3 linked regions of the Homo sapiens genome follow. The protein of the gene in region 3 purifies or fractionates together with the protein of the main gene of each other region. This does not show direct contact. Each region holds a gene or a part of one and is shown on either strand. Other genes may lie near its edges.

The links.
Region 1: the proteins of SLC44A1 (region 3) and CYB5B purify together in Homo sapiens (affinity purification with mass spectrometry; 2 studies listed by BioGRID and IntAct, with this or other methods). This does not show direct contact.
Region 2: the proteins of SLC44A1 (region 3) and CD9 purify together in Homo sapiens (co-immunoprecipitation; 2 studies listed by IntAct). This does not show direct contact.

Annotation. Positions count from the first base shown.
Region 1 is NC_000016.10:69,462,619-69,466,764, reverse strand, and holds the end of CYB5B (cytochrome b5 type B), read right to left. Parts: 3' UTR 501-4,146; downstream 1-500. UniProt on the Homo sapiens protein: Cytochrome b5 is a membrane-bound hemoprotein functioning as an electron carrier for several membrane-bound oxygenases.
Region 2 is NC_000012.12:6,203,351-6,210,533, reverse strand, and holds part of CD9 (CD9 antigen), read right to left. Parts: intron 1-7,183. UniProt on the Homo sapiens protein: Integral membrane protein associated with integrins, which regulates different processes, such as sperm-egg fusion, platelet activation and aggregation, and cell adhesion.
Region 3 is NC_000009.12:105,359,539-105,366,721, reverse strand, and holds part of SLC44A1 (choline transporter-like protein 1), read right to left. Parts: intron 5,532-7,183; coding exon 5,392-5,531; intron 3,902-5,391; coding exon 3,715-3,901; intron 2,168-3,714; coding exon 2,002-2,167; intron 1,240-2,001; coding exon 1,083-1,239; intron 377-1,082; coding exon 293-376; intron 1-292.

The sequences.
Region 1 (4,146 bases), on a different chromosome or scaffold from region 3:
TATGTTTCAAAGGTAATTATAAAAACGGTTTATTTCCCTTGTTTTATTAACACAGTCACTAAACTTCAATCTCAGTGTTTAATTTTCCCCAACAGTTTAGCTATTTCCAAGAAAAACAATCATTTGAAGACTGGCATTGCAGATAACAAAACAGTATTACCTGGTACTGGCTTCTCTGTCAGTAGGTATTTTCAGTGGAAACAGAACCTCAAACCTGGCTACCCCGTTCCCACTTCACAGCCATTAAAACACAGCCTTGCTTTTTGCATTTCACGATTATCAAATGAACGATTCACTTCACGAAAAGAACAGTGAGGAGAATCCTGGAGAACCACGGAACTCCCCACCACGTTATGCTAAACACACCATTAGCACAGACACGGGAGACTGTCATGCTTCTGAAATCCTTTTCTTCCAGAACACCTGAGGATTACAAAACCAACACTTCTACTTAAAAAACACCTTTTTAAATTAAAAATAATAAGTGTAGTCGGGGCAAGAAAAGGAAAACAGTGTCTTTATTGTGTGTAGTTCTAACAAACGTTCACTGTGTGCGCATTCCAGCAGAAAGAGACAAAGATCTTTGTTCAAAATATTCTGAAAAAGGTAAACTAACTGCATTATTGAATACACAAAAGGAATGTTACCGTTACTTGTTCATAGTCAAAGGTGAAGTTAAAAAAAAAGGGAAGTTAAATAACTGAAGTAATGGTTTGCCCAAATAGCAAACGTAGGATACAAGCGTGGGCAAAGAGCAGCTACTGAAGCTCATGAGGAGGATGCTGGATATAGGGTAGGTAACTTGACAAATGCCTCTGCTTCTTTGGAACCTTCTTCCTAGATCACCCCCACAAATTCCAAACCTGGCTCTTTCAGAGCACAACAGCCAAATGTAACTAAACTCCTCATTACTTCTGTGATATTTGGCAACAGAATAAGATAGTTTAAAAAAAAATCAATTTCTTGTTGAGACAAGACATGTCTGAATCCATTTCTCTTGGGGTAGGAGGAGGTAATGAACATTAACGTTCTGCATCTCAATCTCCTAAAATGGAATTTAACCAGATAGATATCGCTTGAGATTTTAAAGCAGGAGATACCATAAGTAATGATACTCCAGGCCTGTAAAGCATTTTTCATTGTCCCACATTGCAGCTAAATGAGTATAAACTCGACAGTGTTCTGATTTCACAACATATGCATTTATGACAACTGCTAAAACAACTTTACAGGCTCAAACGATAGGTTCCAAGGGATTTTTGTTTTTGCTTAAGCAGTCTTGAAGAGATCTAAACACAAGATAAACTTTGACCCCACCACTCTGTTATCTTTACAAATGCAGAAGTCATTTGGAAACCAAAACCAATTGCTGAGTAGGGGCTGAGGAATTTTGGTGTCATTTCAAACTAGACTCTACTGAGGCAGGTTTAAACCCTGGCTCTCAGGCCAGGGGCAGTGGTACCAACACCCTCTATTTCGGTAGCATGAAACTTCTCTCACCTCCTCCTTCGTGTCCAGCAGCCATGATGTGTACAGTACAGTTTGCAGCAGCAGCAGCAGCAGCAGCTAGTCTTCCTCAGGAATAAACAACCGAACACCCCAGAGACCAGCTCCAGGTGGCACTGTCAGCCAATGGGGACTGGCTCCACTTGCTCTCCAGAGGGTTTTTCACCAGCTACCCATGTCAAGACTGTTTTGTGAATTCAAGTCTACTTCCTAAAAAAAAGGTCCTTTTGGATGGATTTGGCTAGTGTGCTATACTACTTTATTGTATAGAAAAACCTCTGCAAACTCTCACACAAGATTTAGCTTTCACCTGGCTGTTTTTGTAGGCAACAAAATAACAGTAAATGGACCCCAAAGTGATTTTCCAGATACAAAGTGACATCACATCGGCAGTAGTTCAGAAGAAGCCCTGGGTACTGGGGGATTTCATGGGTGGAAGAGACAAAGTCTAATTATCTTTTCCTCTGGCTCTCAGCAAAAAACAAGTGCAGATGTAAACAGGAAAAGAAAACCAATGTGAAGTAGAAAAACATACCTTTTGCATTGGCATTTACCTTAAAAATAACAAAAACACCAATTTTACTTAAGATGGTAGTTCTTTAACATTTCTTATAAGCCAGATGTTTTTCATTCAATTTCGGACATTGCCAACACACTTTTACAACTGATTCAAGTTATCTTCAGGCTTGGCTTTAGTTTGAATGTTCCCTTTCAAGCTCCTCAATACTCCTCTGTTCTTTACTTTTACCCCAATGTACTCCAATAATCACGCAATTTATTTATTACAGGCAATCATATACCAATCCTTCCTTGCCTTTAAATAGAGAAGCATCAAGTCATACCACTTTTGTTAAATAATAACCAAAGTTTTTTTCAATATTGTCTTAAAAGTAGCATCTTATAATGCATACAAACATTTTTCTAAAGATAAAAGCTTTACTAAACCCATATCCCTGATAATAAAAGTCAGCCAGAAATCTCCTAAAATTACTCCCAAATATATCCAAGTGTGCAAGTACAAGGTTAATATTATTTTGATGAATTCTGTATTCATTCAACTGCTAAATCACAGGATACAAGACCTGGGTTGAACTTTTTCTTAAATAGTTTACATGGGCAGTCCCTGGTTTGCTGGGCAGTTTCCTGTCTCATCAAATCCCTGGCAAGCTGGGAGGGAGGGAGGAGATGCTGAGCAGCCTCTATGGTCCTTCTTGAACCAAGCTGCTCCCTGCTGGATATGACAATGGCTCAGAAGCAGACTAGCAATTCTCAAAGGACAGGGAGAAAAATCACCACAGTTGCTGGCAGAAAACAGCCAGTGTACTATTTATTTCCTCAAGTGCTTCCATGGGGGAAAAAATAAAAGTCTAATATGCCAGAGAAATCATCATTGAACCAATAAGACACAGTAACATAATTCTAGTAACCTACTTCTCAATGAACACACATCTGAGAAAAAAACCGCCAGTATTTTATTCTCATGGAAAAACAGAACAAACCCACAAGTTGGAGTCACGGAGATAAAATACAGATGAAATGGAAAACGGTCTGTTGTCATGAACTCTCACTTTCAAATACCATTTTATATGGAAGTTACTTTACTGCGGGGCAAACAGAAGGCCATGCTGGAGTCTCTTACTTTTGGAAAATGGAGAATCAAAAATTTGCTAATCAACAAACAAAAAAGGAGGGAAACTCCTTGGTAAAGCTCTACAAACATAATTATACATTTATATTTTACCAATAAAAGATAGCTAGGGTAGAAAAAACAGATGGTTAGAAACTGGTGCCAAACCAAAGTGAAAGCTTTGGTGCCTTCTCTAAACTCCTATCCTGTTTCTTTAGAAAACACCAGTTTTCTAAAGAAAGATTACTCTGAATTCACCAGGGTTCTATCACCCCAATTCATCCCTACCTTTCCACCCCCAAGACACGAAAGGGCCATGTAGTTTTTTGTCCGGCACCACTTGGGAAGGGGCTGGGCTCAGGGGCTGGGAAGAGCTACCTGCTGCCCTAGCTTGAAAGGGAGGAGGTGGCCACACCATTCTTTGTATTTTTATCACGCACATAAAAGAACAAAAATCATTTGGCAGTTTTAAGTTTAATAGGTGCAAACCTTTACTTCAGGAATTAAACCCCTTATGATAAATAAAAGAATTAAATCAGATTTTTTTTTAATACAGATAGGGGTCTCGCTATGTTGCCCAGGCTGGTCTTGAACTCTTGGCCTCAAGCGATCTTCCCACCTTGGCCTCCCAAAGTGCCAGGATTACAGGCCTGAGCCACCACACCTAGCCCTAAATCAGAATTTTTTAAAAAAAATTTACTTAAAAGAAAAATGGAAAAATAAAACTTTCAACACTAGACTGCCGCCCTGTTAAGAATGTCTAATATGCAATCAAAGTATTGGAAAGCAGGCATTTTTACCAAAGAGCAATGTCACTATAACTTATGAACAGAAAGTTGTGAAATATAAGGGTACTCATGGAAACCAGTGAAGAGAGGAAACACCGGCAATTGTTCAACACGGAACAGTGAGCAGGTACTTTGGGAGTAAGGCTCTGAGAGATGGAAGACGCTGGTCTCAGATCTGAGGTGATGTCTGGCCAATCGTCTTGGCTCCAAGGGGGAAGAATGCAA
Region 2 (7,183 bases), on a different chromosome or scaffold from region 3:
TGGGCTGGAGATGCCACCTACACCTGGCCTCGCTTGGGGGCAGTGGGGGTAGTGGGTGCTCGAAGAGAGTCTAAAAAAAACAGCCGGTGCTTCCTCTCCCTGGCCTTTGTCCTGAGAGCTTCAGCCACACCCTTGGTTCCACTGGTCATATAGTCAGGGTGGACAGAGGCGGCGCTCTGGGAAGGGACTCTCCAGGGCAACTCGCACATCCTCCTTTCCCCTTGGCTGCACTGTTGCAGCTGCCCATTGGCATTGTGTCCATAGACGGGACCGCAGCCCGTTCAGTGGCCATGGTCCTTCCATCCCCCGTGAAAACAGCCCCAGAGTGGGACCCGGAGCCTCTGCCCTTCCCCAGAACCACCCTGCCAGCAAAGGGCAGAACAAGATGACATCAGCACAGGCCTCTCTGTGTTATAGCCCTGGGCACGAGCTCTCAAGACACACCCCAGGGTCCTAGAGGAGAGTGCCAGCCTCCCATGACAAAGAAGGCCAAAGTGTCCCTCCTCATCCTAGAAGATAATCTAATTTCTATTTGAAATGAGCAGTCCCAGCTGGGCGCGGTGACTCACGCCTGTAATCCCAGCACTTTGGAAGGCCGAGGTGGGCGTATCACCTGAGGTCAGCAGTTCGAGACCAGCCTGGTCAACGTGGCAAAACCCCATCTCTACTAAAAACACAAAAATTAGCCGGGCATGGTGGTACATGCCTGTAATCCCAGCTACTCAAGAGGCTGAGGCATGAGAATCGCTTGAACCCAGGAGGCAGAGGTTGCAGTGAGCCGAGATTGTGCCACTACACTCCAGCCTGGGCAACAGAATGAGACTCCATCTCAGAAAAAAAAAAAAAAAAAAAAAGAAATTTGCAGTCTGGGTCTCTAAAGGGTTGTGTCTTAGGGAGCCAGGGCTACAATTTGACTAGAGAGGAGGAAAGGAGAGTATGAAGAGATTTTCTCAGGCTTGTAGACAGGAAGCTTTAAAACATCTGAGCTTAGCAATAATAAATTTAAATCCACAGTCCCACATTGTGAGAAAGAAGATGTTTACATTGCACCATGGAGAGCAGGAGGAATATGTCTTAGTGGGAAGGGCCTCCCGTCTCTAGGAACGGGGCCGCTGAGGGAGGTATGGATGACTCCCCACCCAGAAAACATCCAGTGGAGTTGGGCATAAATCTGGGGTGTGCATGCACACTACACACTGCAACTGCCCACCTACAAGGGAAGACATGATGTGGATTCAAACACCAGATTTCTATTGACTTGAAAAGCTACGACGAGCCCGGTGCGGTGGCTCACGCCTATAATCCCAGCACTTTGGGAGGCAGAGGTGGGTGGATCACCTGAGGTGAGACCAGCCTGGCCAACATGATGAAATCCCATCTCTACTAAAAATACAAAAATTAGCTGGGCGTGGTGGCATGTGCCTGTAGTCGCAGCTACTCAGGAGGCTGAGGCGGGAGAATCACTTGAACCTGGGAGGCAGAGGTTGCAGTATGCCAAGATTGCGCCACTGCACTCCAGCCTGGGTGACAGAGCGAGACTCTGTCTCAAAACAAACAACAAAAAAAGCAATGATGAGTTCACAAATAGTATGATTTTGCTGATCATTTCATTTAGAGTTTTAATAAATCAGTACACTGTATTATCATACTACATTCAATCAACTTAGGTTTAAAAGACATTAAACTACACACCTGTAATCCCAGCACTTTGGGAGGCTGAGGCGGGTGGATCACCTGAGGTCAGGAGTTCAAGACCGGCCTGATCAACATGGAGAAACCCCGTCTCTACTAAAAATTAGCCGGGCATGGTGGCACACCCCTGTAATCCCAACTACTCAGGAGGCTGAGGCAGGAGAATGGCTTGAACTCAGGAGGCGGAGGTTGCGGTGAGCTGCGATCGCACCATTACACTCCAGCCTGGGCAACAAGAGTGAAACTCCACCTCAAAAAAAAAAGAACAAAAACAAACAAACAAACAAAAAAAACTAAAATCCTTGAATAGGTTTTGAATTAATAAATTCATAATTAATAAAACTGCCTGATTAACTTTATGGTATTTTTAGCCTCAGTCGAGGTTCTTCTCCTATGACCCATGTATTGTGTTGTTTCTGAACTTGGAGACTAACACACAGCTTAGACTGGGAGTGTCAGCAAGGGACTGGCACCTGAAGCTGTGAAGCTCAGTTCCGAGGAGAGGGCTTGGCAGGAGCCACCAGCTGCTTAGCCTGCTCAGAGGTGTCACTGGAAACTTGGATGTGCATTGGGTAAGCTGTGAAGGGTTACTTTTCTTTTCTTTTTTTTTTTTTTTTGAGATGGAGTTTCACTCTTGTCGCCCAGGCTGGAGTGCAATGGCACGATTTCAGCTCACTGCAACCGCCGCCTCCCAGGTTCAAGCAATTCTCCTGCCTCAGCCTCCCAAGTAGCTGGGATTACAGGCACCTGCCACCATGACTGGCTAATTTTGCATTTTTAGTAGAGAGGGGGTTTTTCCATGTTGGCCAGGCTGGTCTCAAACTCCCAACCTCAGGTGATCCGCCTGTCTCGGCCTCCCAAAATGCTGGGATTATAGGCGTGAGCCACCGCGCCTGGCCTGAAGGGTTACTTTTCTAGCAGAGCTCATAAGAGCCACTATTTCTTCCCTCAGGCACAATGCCTGGCTTAAGGATTGAAGAGGAAGGGCTCTTAAGACCCGGGTTTCTGATTTTTCTCCAAGTCAGTAGTCCCCAAACTTCTCTCTACCGGGACCTCCTCTGGAATCACATTAATCCGGGCCCCTCTCCAAGTCAGGCTGCTTTGCCTTTCCCAGTTACTCAACCAGGCTGCTTCTCAACTCCTTGGGAGTGCAGCTCCCCAAATGATCCCTCCTGAGACATTCCTCCTTTCTGCAAGTCCTCAGAGGACGAGACTTTCCGTCTGCATTTGGAGGGAAGGAGAAGAGAGACAGACCTCCTTTCTTCCTGAACAAAGATGAAGCACCAAGCTCTGGGAAAAGCTAAGCCAAGAGGCCCAACCTGGCTGGAAGATCATACAGTTGCATTTTTCGTGTGTACTAGAAATACAGAGCACTCATTAAATTAACCGAGTGAAAACCACTCCTTAGGCAATGATTAAGCTGAGAGTCAGAGGGATGGGTGGGAGGCCAGCTGTCCCATCTGAGCTGCACTTGATCACTAGGGAATTTATCATTTCTAATGCCTTTCACAAAGTCCCCTGTGATGCCCCCATTGCAGCCCCCGGGGAACGGTGAGGCAACCTGCTTCTTATGGCAGAAATATGGGACTCAGGACAGAGCAGGGGTTGTCTGGAAACTGAGGGAGAAAAACCAATATGGGGCATTTATAGCGTGAGCTCAGGCTGGGCGTGGTGGCTCACATTTATGATCCCAGTGCTTTGGGAGTCCGAGGCTGAAGGACTGCTTGAGCCCAGGAGTTCAAGACCAGCTTGGGCGACATAGAGAGACCCTCTCTGTACAAAAAAATTAGCCGGGTATAGTGGTGTGTGCTGTAGTCCCAGCTACTTGAGAGGCTGAGGCCAGGATTGTGTAAAGCCCAGGAGTTTGAGGCTGCAGTGAACTATGATGGTGCCACTATACTGCAGCCTGGGCAATGGAGAAAAAGGCAAAAAAAAAAAAAATGTCTATGGGCCTCCAGAAACAGACATAACATTTTTCTGGAGGCAGGTCGTACTGATTCCAAGGAATTCCCTAAAAAGGAATTTCCCTAAAAACGTTAAGATGTATTAGTCTAGGATGACAGGATATAGCACTTAAAACTATCCACAACTAAGTATTTTTGGAGAGGCGGGGGGAGGAAATTACCAGATAGATACAATTATTATAAAATTATCACAAAAAAATTATCTCATCTGGGGACAGGATGTTGCTTTCTACGGCTGCATGCCATCACTTGATGGAAAATGAGAATGTCCCTGGACCAGCATGACTTTTTCCATGGAATAAAACAGGCAAGTAATCTGTAGTCAGGCCTTAAAACATAAATTTAAGAAATGTAGGCCAGGCGCGGTGGCTCATTCCTGTAATCCTAGCATTTTGGGAGGCCAAGGTTGGCAGATCGCTTGAGCCTAGGAGTTTGAGACCAGCCTGGGCAACATAGTGAGATCCTGTCTCTACAAAAAAATTAAAAGGTTAGCTGGGTGTAGTGGCACATGCCTGTAGTCCCAGTTACTCAGGAGGCTGAGGTGTGAGGATCGCCTGAGCTGGGAGGTTGAGTTTGCAGTGAGCCATGAGCCATGATTGTTAACACTGCACTCCAGCCTGGGTGACAGAGTGAGCACCGTCTCCAAAAAAAAAAAGAAAGAAAGAAATGTATAAAGACTAGCCCCCGCCCCCTATTCCCCTGCATTTTTTTTTTTTTTTGTCTTCTGAATTTCCTTCCCAGTTGCAAAGGATTTTTCCTGCTCTCTGAGGCCATGGGTCTGACAGGCTCTCACCCAGATTTTCAGACTCTTAACAAGGAAGTCGTTGCTCTTCTGTGTGTATGGGGTAAAGCCTGTTTCTGCAAGGCTTTGGTTGAAAAGACCTGTGGTGGATCCAAATAAAGTCCCGCTGACCCCAACCTGGGGGAGGGAGGAACACAAAACATAAACATGCAGCTTCCTCAAACTTCTCCACTCTCCTTTCCCCAGCTCCACACAGGTCTGTCTAGAACATGCTGCCAGTAGGACCACAGAAGCTGTGGTTGGGGTGACCTCAGGCCCCCTACCCTCACAGCCAGGCTCACCCAGGTGAGAACCACACCCAGGCAAGAACCATCAAGGTTTGTGTTCTTTAGAAGAAAAGGCGCCTTTGTCAATCCAAGGTATTATTAAGTTCCAAACCCAACCCTGCAACCAAGTCCAAAAGCTATGCCTCCTTATAAAATTGAACAGAACAGGAAAACAAAAACAAACAAACAAACAAAAGCAGACAAAACAAACACAGGATCTATGTGTGTAAGGGGGAGATTCTCATCCAACACTGCTCCTGGAGGAAGGGGTGAGAAGGCTGATTTGTGAGCCCAGCAGCCGCAGAGGGCTCATCTAGAGTCAGTACTGGCAGGGCCCCAGAGAGGGCTGCATATCAAAGCACTCCCAAATTCGGGCTGGAGCCAGCAGCTGCTTCCTCTGAGCACAATAGAGCAGGGTCTGGAATCGTGCTGTGGGCCACGTTGAAAAGAAGGGGGTAGAGAACGTGAGTGTGAGCGTGTGCAGAGGAATCCTCACCACCATCAAAAGATTGGGTCTTTGTTGTTCACACCCACTGTGGGTGTAGGGGAGAGACCATCAAAATCCTGGGCAAAGGAAGCAGATACCTGGCCTCAGCTCACCTCTCCCCAAGCCTGCCAGCTTCAGTGCACGTGTAGCCAGCTTCACCCCAGCGCAGGCTGTCTGGGCACTGGAGGTGGGAGCCATTTTATGCAACAGTCCCAGCAACTTGCTTCTGGGGGAAAAGGCAGACCATGGGGAGGGGCTTTTGCCACTGCCACCCAACTTGTCCATGCCCTGCCCAGATCCGGAATCCTGATCCTTAGGGTTTCTCTGACAGGCAATTTTATTTTCAGAAGCGGGGCCTTCCCGCAGCCAAATGAGCAGTAGCAACCCATGAAATGGAGTCAGGGTTTTGATGCACAGGACAAAGTTGGCACTGATACAGGAAGGGGCAGGGAGGCCAGTGTGTGGATTGGGAGGGTCCTCCTGGCCACATCTGCGGTTTAGACTTCCACACTTCTTAGAGAACTGCTCTCACCCTCCCCAGGGCCTCATTCTACTCTCCACTAGTGAATAACAATAGCTACTGTTGGAAGATATGTCTGGTGCAATCTACTATGCTAAGTGCACTACACATACTCCCCATTTAACTCTCACAGCACCATGTGGGGTGGTCACCAGCCCCATCTGGTGATGAGACATGGAACCCAGGACTGGTGCTTTGATCACTAGGCCAAGTACTAAGGTATACGGGCAATGAACACCCCTGAGAGAGACCCCACCCAGGGTGAGGAGAGGGAACTGAGAAGCAACAGCAAAGAAAAGCACCAGCTGGGCTCTTGCTCCAGAGGTAAAGGCCAAGAAAAGCTAAGTTCTGAGGACTCAAGCCTTGGTATCCATCTCCCATTTCCAATTCAGGGCTTGTATTTTGTTTATTATATTATTATTTATAGATTTAGGGGACACGAATGTAGTTTTGTTACACATGGTGAAGTCTGGGCTTTTAATGTGACCATCACCAACATAGTATACATCGTACCCAATATTGGTTCCTATTTTGGGTTGTGTAGGAGAGTTCTATTGTTGTATGTGGTATGTGTAGGGGTGTTGGGTTCATAGACTGAGCTTGAAAGGACCTTTTGAGACCATTTGTTCCAAGCTATTGTTTTACAGATGAGGAAACTGAGGCTTAGAGCACAGAAGTGACCAACCCAAGGTTTCAAAGTGAGTTGAGGACAGAGCTGGGCTCACATCCAGGTCTCTGAATTCCCAGTGTAGGTCTCTGTGTTTCGCACCAGCCTCCCCTAGGTCTAGGGGATATGGTTTCTTGGGAAAGAGACCTCCCAGCCCCACACTGCTGTTTCCATCAGTGAGCGAGGCATGAGAGACAGTAAGCAAAGGGGCTGAGGGAGGTGGGGAGGGGATTGGGCTCTGTCAGTATAGCCAAACCTTTCCCTCTTTTGCCCTAAGGAGTTCCTCCCCTTCTCTGACCAGAAAGAGGGCAGACATGCATGTGTCAGACTGGACTGGCCCTAACCCTGGTTCCCCATTTCAGCTGGAGAAATACTTGTGTGTCTACCACATGGACATCAGCAAGATGTTTTCCCTCTCAACTGTTTTTTGGGGGGTGGGCAGGCGGGCAGGGAGGTCTGAAGGAAATGTAGAAACAATCAAAATAGAGCTAGGAGGGCCGGTTCTGGAGGTGGTGGAAGAACAGACTGATTTGCTGGTTTGGCTGTGGCCATCAGGGAGTGACCCACAGGGATGAGATCAGGCCAGGGAAGAGGCACAGCCCCCCAATAACCATCCTACTCCACTGAGGTTGGCCTCTCTCTGGATGCCTGTTGGACACCCCCTCTCAGCAGCCTCTGTGCAAAGTGCTGCTGGGCACTGGCCTCACAATTCCTGCTTTTCAAGGCCCACATCAGGTTCCGAATGCCAAGTTTATAAATGTCTGGTCTCAAGAGAGAAACGGACG
Region 3 (7,183 bases):
GAGTGATGTTTTATCTATTTATTAAAATAAAAATAATAACATATGTAACAAATCTGTACATGTACTCCCTAAACCTAAAAGTTGGAAAAAATTAAAATAATAATGAGCCTTGGTAAGCATATACATTAATTTAAAAAATAAGAATATGATTGAAATAGACATACTTTATCAAGGCACAATGTACAATACCACAAGAAAAACATAACATCTTTCAATTAAGTTTATCTTGGGAGAAGAAACAATGAACCTATCTTTGAAAGTAAATATTAGATTTATTTTTAAAATATTTTACCTGATTTAAATAATTTAGGCACTTTTCAAGACACCAAAGGCAACAAATGCAAGATTTCAGCACACATCGTGCACAAGCATTTTCCTGGATGGGGGAAAAATGGAAATAATAAAAAAACCAAAGAATCAAACTGTCACATAGAAGACTTCAAACGTTAGAAAAATAAATAAAAATTTAAAAATCACAATTTATGCTTCAAAGCCTCCATACTTGTCCACTTTCTCCTTAAAACATAATGACTGAATTATTTTTAATAAGTTCAATTAAATATTTATTTAGTCTCTACTGCATATACAGTGAAGTTTATAACACCTGCAAGGAACTTACAATCTAGTAGGAGAAAAAAAATACCAAACACAAAAAAGGTTAGAATCAGAATATAGTATAGATACTAAGTGTTATGAGAGTGGAGAACAAAGAGACAGCATTGTTTGGGAGATGGGAGGAATCAGGAAAGGTTTCTACAAAGGAGTAGAATTTGAGCTAAACTAGTTGAAGTGCATGTTATTCCCACAGTCAAGGAAGGGAAGAAGTTCTAAGGAGGAAGGTATGTGAGTCAACAGAGAGGAAGAGCAGCACAGGATACTTTTAGTTACTAGTGACTGGATGAATTTTGCCAGAGCATATGGAGTGCATGAGTGGGAGACAAGGGAGAAGGGCTGGATTTTGCCTTGTAAAGACTTTGAAGAAAACACAACTTTGTATTTAACATTATTGGGTGCTTTACTACATGCAGAACTGAGGTCTGGAATGTGCCCACAGAAAGTACAGAAATGCATTTTCCCCTTACCTTTCCTTTGAGCTGACTGTGAATATACATAAGGATCATTCGCGGAATTTTGACTAATGTGATAATGAAAGATCCTTTTGCCACCGTACCTAGGTGGTAACGAATAAGGCGATTTACTGATGCCAAAATAGGTGTAAATGGCAAATTCCTTTTATCCCTATTTAAAAAATGACCAAAAAGACAATTAAAACAAAGCCTAGATCAGGATGGAAACACAGGTATGGTTTAGAGTCCAACGCAGTGAAAAAAAAAATCAGCTCATCATTCTTATTTTAGCTTTATGACAAAATGGCCAAGTGATATATAACTATTACAAATGCTACAGACATGCTATATAAAATTAATGTCATTGCTCTATGGTAGTTTCATGGGGTTCTGATGCTCTAATACTTCAAGTTAAATAAAACTGTGCTCTGAAAGCTTTTATTAGTGAATACTTATGGGGTCATCAGAAAACAGAATTTAAAAAGATGTTAAATTTAGACTTGGCATCTAATTATAATAGAAAATTATGAGACCTAAAGCTTTCATATTTGGCTCTAAAGTTAGCAAAGGGAACTCACACTTGTTCCGGTCTAAACAAACTAAAAAGACTTGTTGTCCTTTGATGGACTTTTATATAAAGCAAAAGTACATATGGCACCACTATAAGATTTATTCTTCTGCTAAATACAATTTGTGACATCGCAATAAATTTTATGAGACAACTGCAGAAAAGTATAAAGAATAAAACAACAATCTCTCATTTGACCACCTCCCAGAATTATCAACTATATATAACACTCTGTCATATTCATTTCTAATTCTTTTGTTAAAGAAATGAAACTCCTGCCAGCCCCAGTCTGATTCCCTTCCCCTCCAGCCTGCGGACACCATCCCTTAGATGAACTCGAGTTTTCTAATAACAACATATTCTTACCTAGTAAAATAGTATGTTACCACAGCTCCTGCCACTGTCATCTGCTGACATGCTAGAATAAATTCACTGATCCAAATCAGGCCCACCACATGGTACCACCACATGTACTGCAGAGGCCCAGAAATTTTGAACTCCACAAAGCCTTGCTCATTCTGAACAGGACTGCCTAGGAAAATATCAAGGAAGGAAAGAAGAAGCACATAAAGTACAAATCCAGAAATACGGCAGTTAAGTAGAAGGCAATAGGTCCCTACCCCAAGCCACAAACCTTCTGATCTGTGTGGTATTTCATAAAGGGACAAAAATAACTATCACTTGAAAAGTTGTGAAATTAAGAATTGTACTATTATGCATTTTGATGTCCTCAAAGGCATCATATAAAGCTTTTAAAAGTTGTTATATTTAATAAAACTCTTCTTATATTATCAATTATTTAAGCATGAATTTTCAAACACTTCAGTTTTTTTCAAGGCCTATTATTTATCCAATCATTACAGATTTCTTAGCAAAGTACAGAAATTATTATTATATTCAGTTGCTAAGTGTGTGTGCTGAATGGACAGATAAGTTACATAGTTACATAAAAGTTTACTATCCTTATGATACTCTTTACAATTAGTTCCATTTAAGCTTAACCTTTGATACTCAGTACGGCTGTAAGAAAGTCTGAGTGTCTAACTATGAACTATATCATCAGTTGGAGCTCTAGCTAGGGTCAGATCATTTCGAAACCAGAAAATCCCAAGGAAGTAAGTAGATCCTTGGCTATACCTGGGATTTGAGGTAACTCCTGAGTGACATTGCATTCACTGGTTCATCTTAGAATGAATCTAAATGTCTGAGTCAGTATTGGAACTTACTTCAAATTCATGATCATTTCAAAATTAGAGTGCAATTTCAGGCCTTCCCTGATCTAGACTTACATTGCTAGGATGTTCTAAAAAATCATGAATATGGGCTGGGCACGCTGGCTCACGCCTGTAATCCCAGCACTTTGGGAGGCCGAGGTGGATGGATCACATGAGGCCAGGAGTTGGAGAGCAGCCTGGGCAACATGGAGAAACCCTGTCTCTACTAAAGATACAAAAATTAGCCAGGCATGGTGGTGCATACCTGTAGTGCCAGCTGCTCGGGAGGCTGAGGCAGGAGAATCGCTTAAACCTGGGAGGCTGAGGTTGCAGTGAGCTGAGATCACACCACTGCACTCCAGTTTGTGTGACAGAGAGACACTCTGTCTCAAAAAAAATAAAAGGCCAGGTGCGGTGGCTCACGCCTATAATCCCAACACTTTGGGAGGCCAAGGCAGGCGTCCTGACCTGATCATGAGGTCAGGAGTTCGAGACCAGCCTGGCCAATATGGTGAAACCCTGTCTCTACTAAAAATACAAAAATTAGCCAGGCATGGTGGCATGTGCCTGTAGTCCCAGCTACTCAGGAGGCTGAGGCAGAAGAATCACTTGAACCCGGGAGGCGGAGGTTGCAGTGAGCCAAGAGAGCACCACTTCACTCCAGCCTGGGTGACAGAGCAAGACTCTGTCTCAAAAAAAAAAGACGAATATGAAGTAGGTTGTTGAGGAGCCATAACCACTACAAGTTCTGATGGCTATTGGACCTTCATCAACAAATGTCTGAAGAATTACCTCTCTCTGATGTTCTAAAATACTGGAATGCAAATCACGTTTGTCACTAAGAGAAAGAAGCTTATCTTCTTACCGGTAGTGCCAAGAAAAAGAAGTGTCATGATCCAGTACACCCAAAACAAGACAAGAGCAAAGAAAGTCCAGAAGGGTTGGAAGACTAGCAGTGGCAAGTGAATGAAGACCTTGCCAGCTACGTGGAACAAGGCGATGGTAAGAGCAACACGTTTGCGCATAACCAACATTATCAGGAATAAGATCACCTGTATGGAGAGAATGGTTTCAGTTATTATTATAAGTAGTGAAAACAGAAACCGAAAATAGTAGAAATTTTTAACATAACCCTTCAGCCCCAAACCTGGAGGTAGCATTCTTTGAATTTCAATAATACTTTATCAGTAAGTATCTCTCTTGCAATATTTATTGTCAATTTTATATTATGGTTACCAAGTGACCTTTAAAGCAAAACATAAAAGGATTTCTCAACTTATTAATACATTCTAGAATTTTTTTCCTTTTCCCTTTGCCACTCATTATGAACCAAAACATACTGTCAGTCAGGATGAGACTCTTTATTTATTTAAACAGATACACCACAAAAACGAGGTTTTTATTTGTATCTTCCTTATTAGACCAACAGCTCCTTAAAAGTGGGATCTGTGTCAGATTCACCCTTTGCCTCCTCCCACCCCCACATCCCATCTTCAGCAGCTGGCACAGCAAATTGTACCTAAAATGAGATTTCATTCATATTTTGTTGTAATATCTGTATAACAATAACTAACAAATATCTTTTGGCACCAATGGTTTTATGATGGCTTTATTTTTTGTTTCTGATGCTCAATAAAAAGCTTGGGATTGCTCTTAGAAGTAGACTGATTTTTTTTCTTTTTTCAGAGAGAAGACGATGATGAACCAAAGGTATACATATAAATTATTTAACCACATGTTAATTGGTAATTTTATTGCTTAATACCTAAGCAGCAAATCTCACACACACACACACACACGCGCGCGCGCGCACACACACGCACACACAAACACACATATATATTTTGGAGACAAGGTCTCACTCAGTTGCCTAGGCTGTAATGCAGTGACACAATCATGGCTCAGGTGACCCTCCCACCTCTGCCTCCCGAGTAGCTGGGACCACAGGTGCACACCAGCATGCTCAGCTGATTTTAATTTTTTGTGAAGACAGGGTCTCACTATCTTGCCCAGGTTGGTCTAGAACTCGTGGGCTCAAGTGATCCTCCCACTTCAGTCTCCCAAAGTGCTTGCATTATAGGCATAAGCCACTGTACCTGACCACACCTATATTTTTGAAATAACGCCATAAAGTTAAATGAAAAGTTTGAAAGACAAATGGGAAGATAATTAGCAAACAAGTAAATGGAATGATATATTTTTTAACATACTTTTCTACAGTAAAGGGAACCATTTTTAAAAAGTAATTATCTTATGACAATAAGAAATATGTTCTTGTAAGCAAATGGTAATGTAAATATTCTAGGTGAAAATCCTCTCTCAAAAAGCAGACAGGGTAGAAAAAATGTTTCATCAAATAGCACTCATCCATGAGGGAAGCCTTCAAGAGACTTTTTAGTGTTTCATACACTATGGCACAGAGATATTATCTACTGGAGATCAGGGTTAGGAATGCAAAAGCTAGATTTGAGTTTCTGCTCCATTAATGATCTCCTGCAAACAAAAACACAAAACCGAAAGACACGCCAAAGCCTAAACTCACTGTGAACACTGTAGCTGAAATGGCATAAATGAGGAGGGCCCGAAGATTGTCTTCAGCTATCTGAAGCTGCTCAGGAGTAACAGTTTCTTTGGGAGACCTTCTTTGCTTTGCATACAGCCACCATAGTACACCTGTGCCTCCTGGAGACAAAAGACCCAACTGTTAATGCAATAATTAGGATAAGAAAATGTGTAACATAAATTCTCAATTTTCTTGACCCTTCCTACAGATCATCATGGGACTAATGCAGTGACAATCCATTTGGCTGGGAAGTACATAGCTATAACTTTTTGCCAGCATAAAGAAAGTGTCCATTGCTCTATTATCATCCTCCACATTAAGCATTTATAAATCCTTCAGTGTATCAAATAAGCTTCCTTCAAATGTATTTATTATTGACTATGAAGCTAAGAGCGAGCCAGTAGAAACATACACCCCTGACAGGAATTGACCACAAAGAAAGAGCCTCAGCATTTAAGCTGAGGAGGCTGGAGGAAGGAAATAAGCATCACAGAAAACATCAATGAAGCTTAAAGAGGGCAAGGATCTTCTCTGTTGTACTCATCACAGATACCTCTGTGACTTGCACTGACACAGTAATGCAGTTGATTAAGTATTTGTACAATGAATAAATGCAAATCAAAAGAACAGTTCCCACCAAAGGGAGGAACAAAGAGGAAATCTCTGATAGTGGTGGGTGCTAGGGATAAGCATTTTTAAATCTCCAACACCGGTTGAGAGATTCAAAGAACCAGACTGAAGAGGGAGACAAACCTACCTCCACATATGAGAGCTGACTTATATACCTACTTTCAACCCATTCAGCATTTTGAATGCTACAGCACCTATTGTTCTAGCTGGAGATAGAACAGTAAACAAAGCCAAGTTCTTACTCTTGCTGTTCATGGAACTTATATAATAATAGGGAAACAAAAAAATAAGAAAACAAGGAAAAATACAGTATATTAAGTCTAAAGAAAAAATGATCTCCTGGTAAGAAGGATATAGAGTGTCTGGGTAGGGAAAGCTTTGCAATTTTATATAAGATGGGTAAGCAAGGCCTCACTGGTATTAGTAAGATGATATCTGAGCAATGGAATCAAAGACAGAGAGCAATCTATGACACTATCTAAGGAAAGAGTGTCCCAGGCAAAGTTCAAAGAGACTGAGGTAGAACCATGCCTAGTATGAGAGAAAGAAGACCATTGTGGCTACTGCAATGAGCAATGCGGAAAGTGGTAGAGATGTGGGCAGAGAGGTAGCTGCGGACCAGACCACACTGTAAGGCCTTGTAGGTCACAGTGAAAAAATGGATGATTCAGAGTAGAGACATGTGTGTGTGTGGCTGATATGATAAATGTCTGGGATATAAAAAACTGAAGCAAAGTCGATGTACATCAACATCTGCACTCAAGAGTTAATGAGATCAAAGGCAAATTCCATTACCTATTTGTTGGCAAATACCAAGTACAAATTTTCCATCTGTTGAAGAGGAGGAAACAAATCAAAACTACCAGAAATTGGTGAAAAACATTTTAGAGCAAGGGAATGTTTCCATTTTGAAGTCTTGCAGGCACAAGAAAATTGTCTGGAAAAATGTTTAATATATTCAGAAAATGGAAGAAAATATGTTTCCTACATACAGAAATGAATTATAGGAGAAAAGCTGAAGTTAAAAAAATAGAATGAAATTGAAATAATGATGTCAAGGAGGAAGCTGTTCACAATAGCCATGGTAGACAGTATTTATTATTAAAATTTAAATTTGTATTAGGAACTGTGCTAAGTCCTT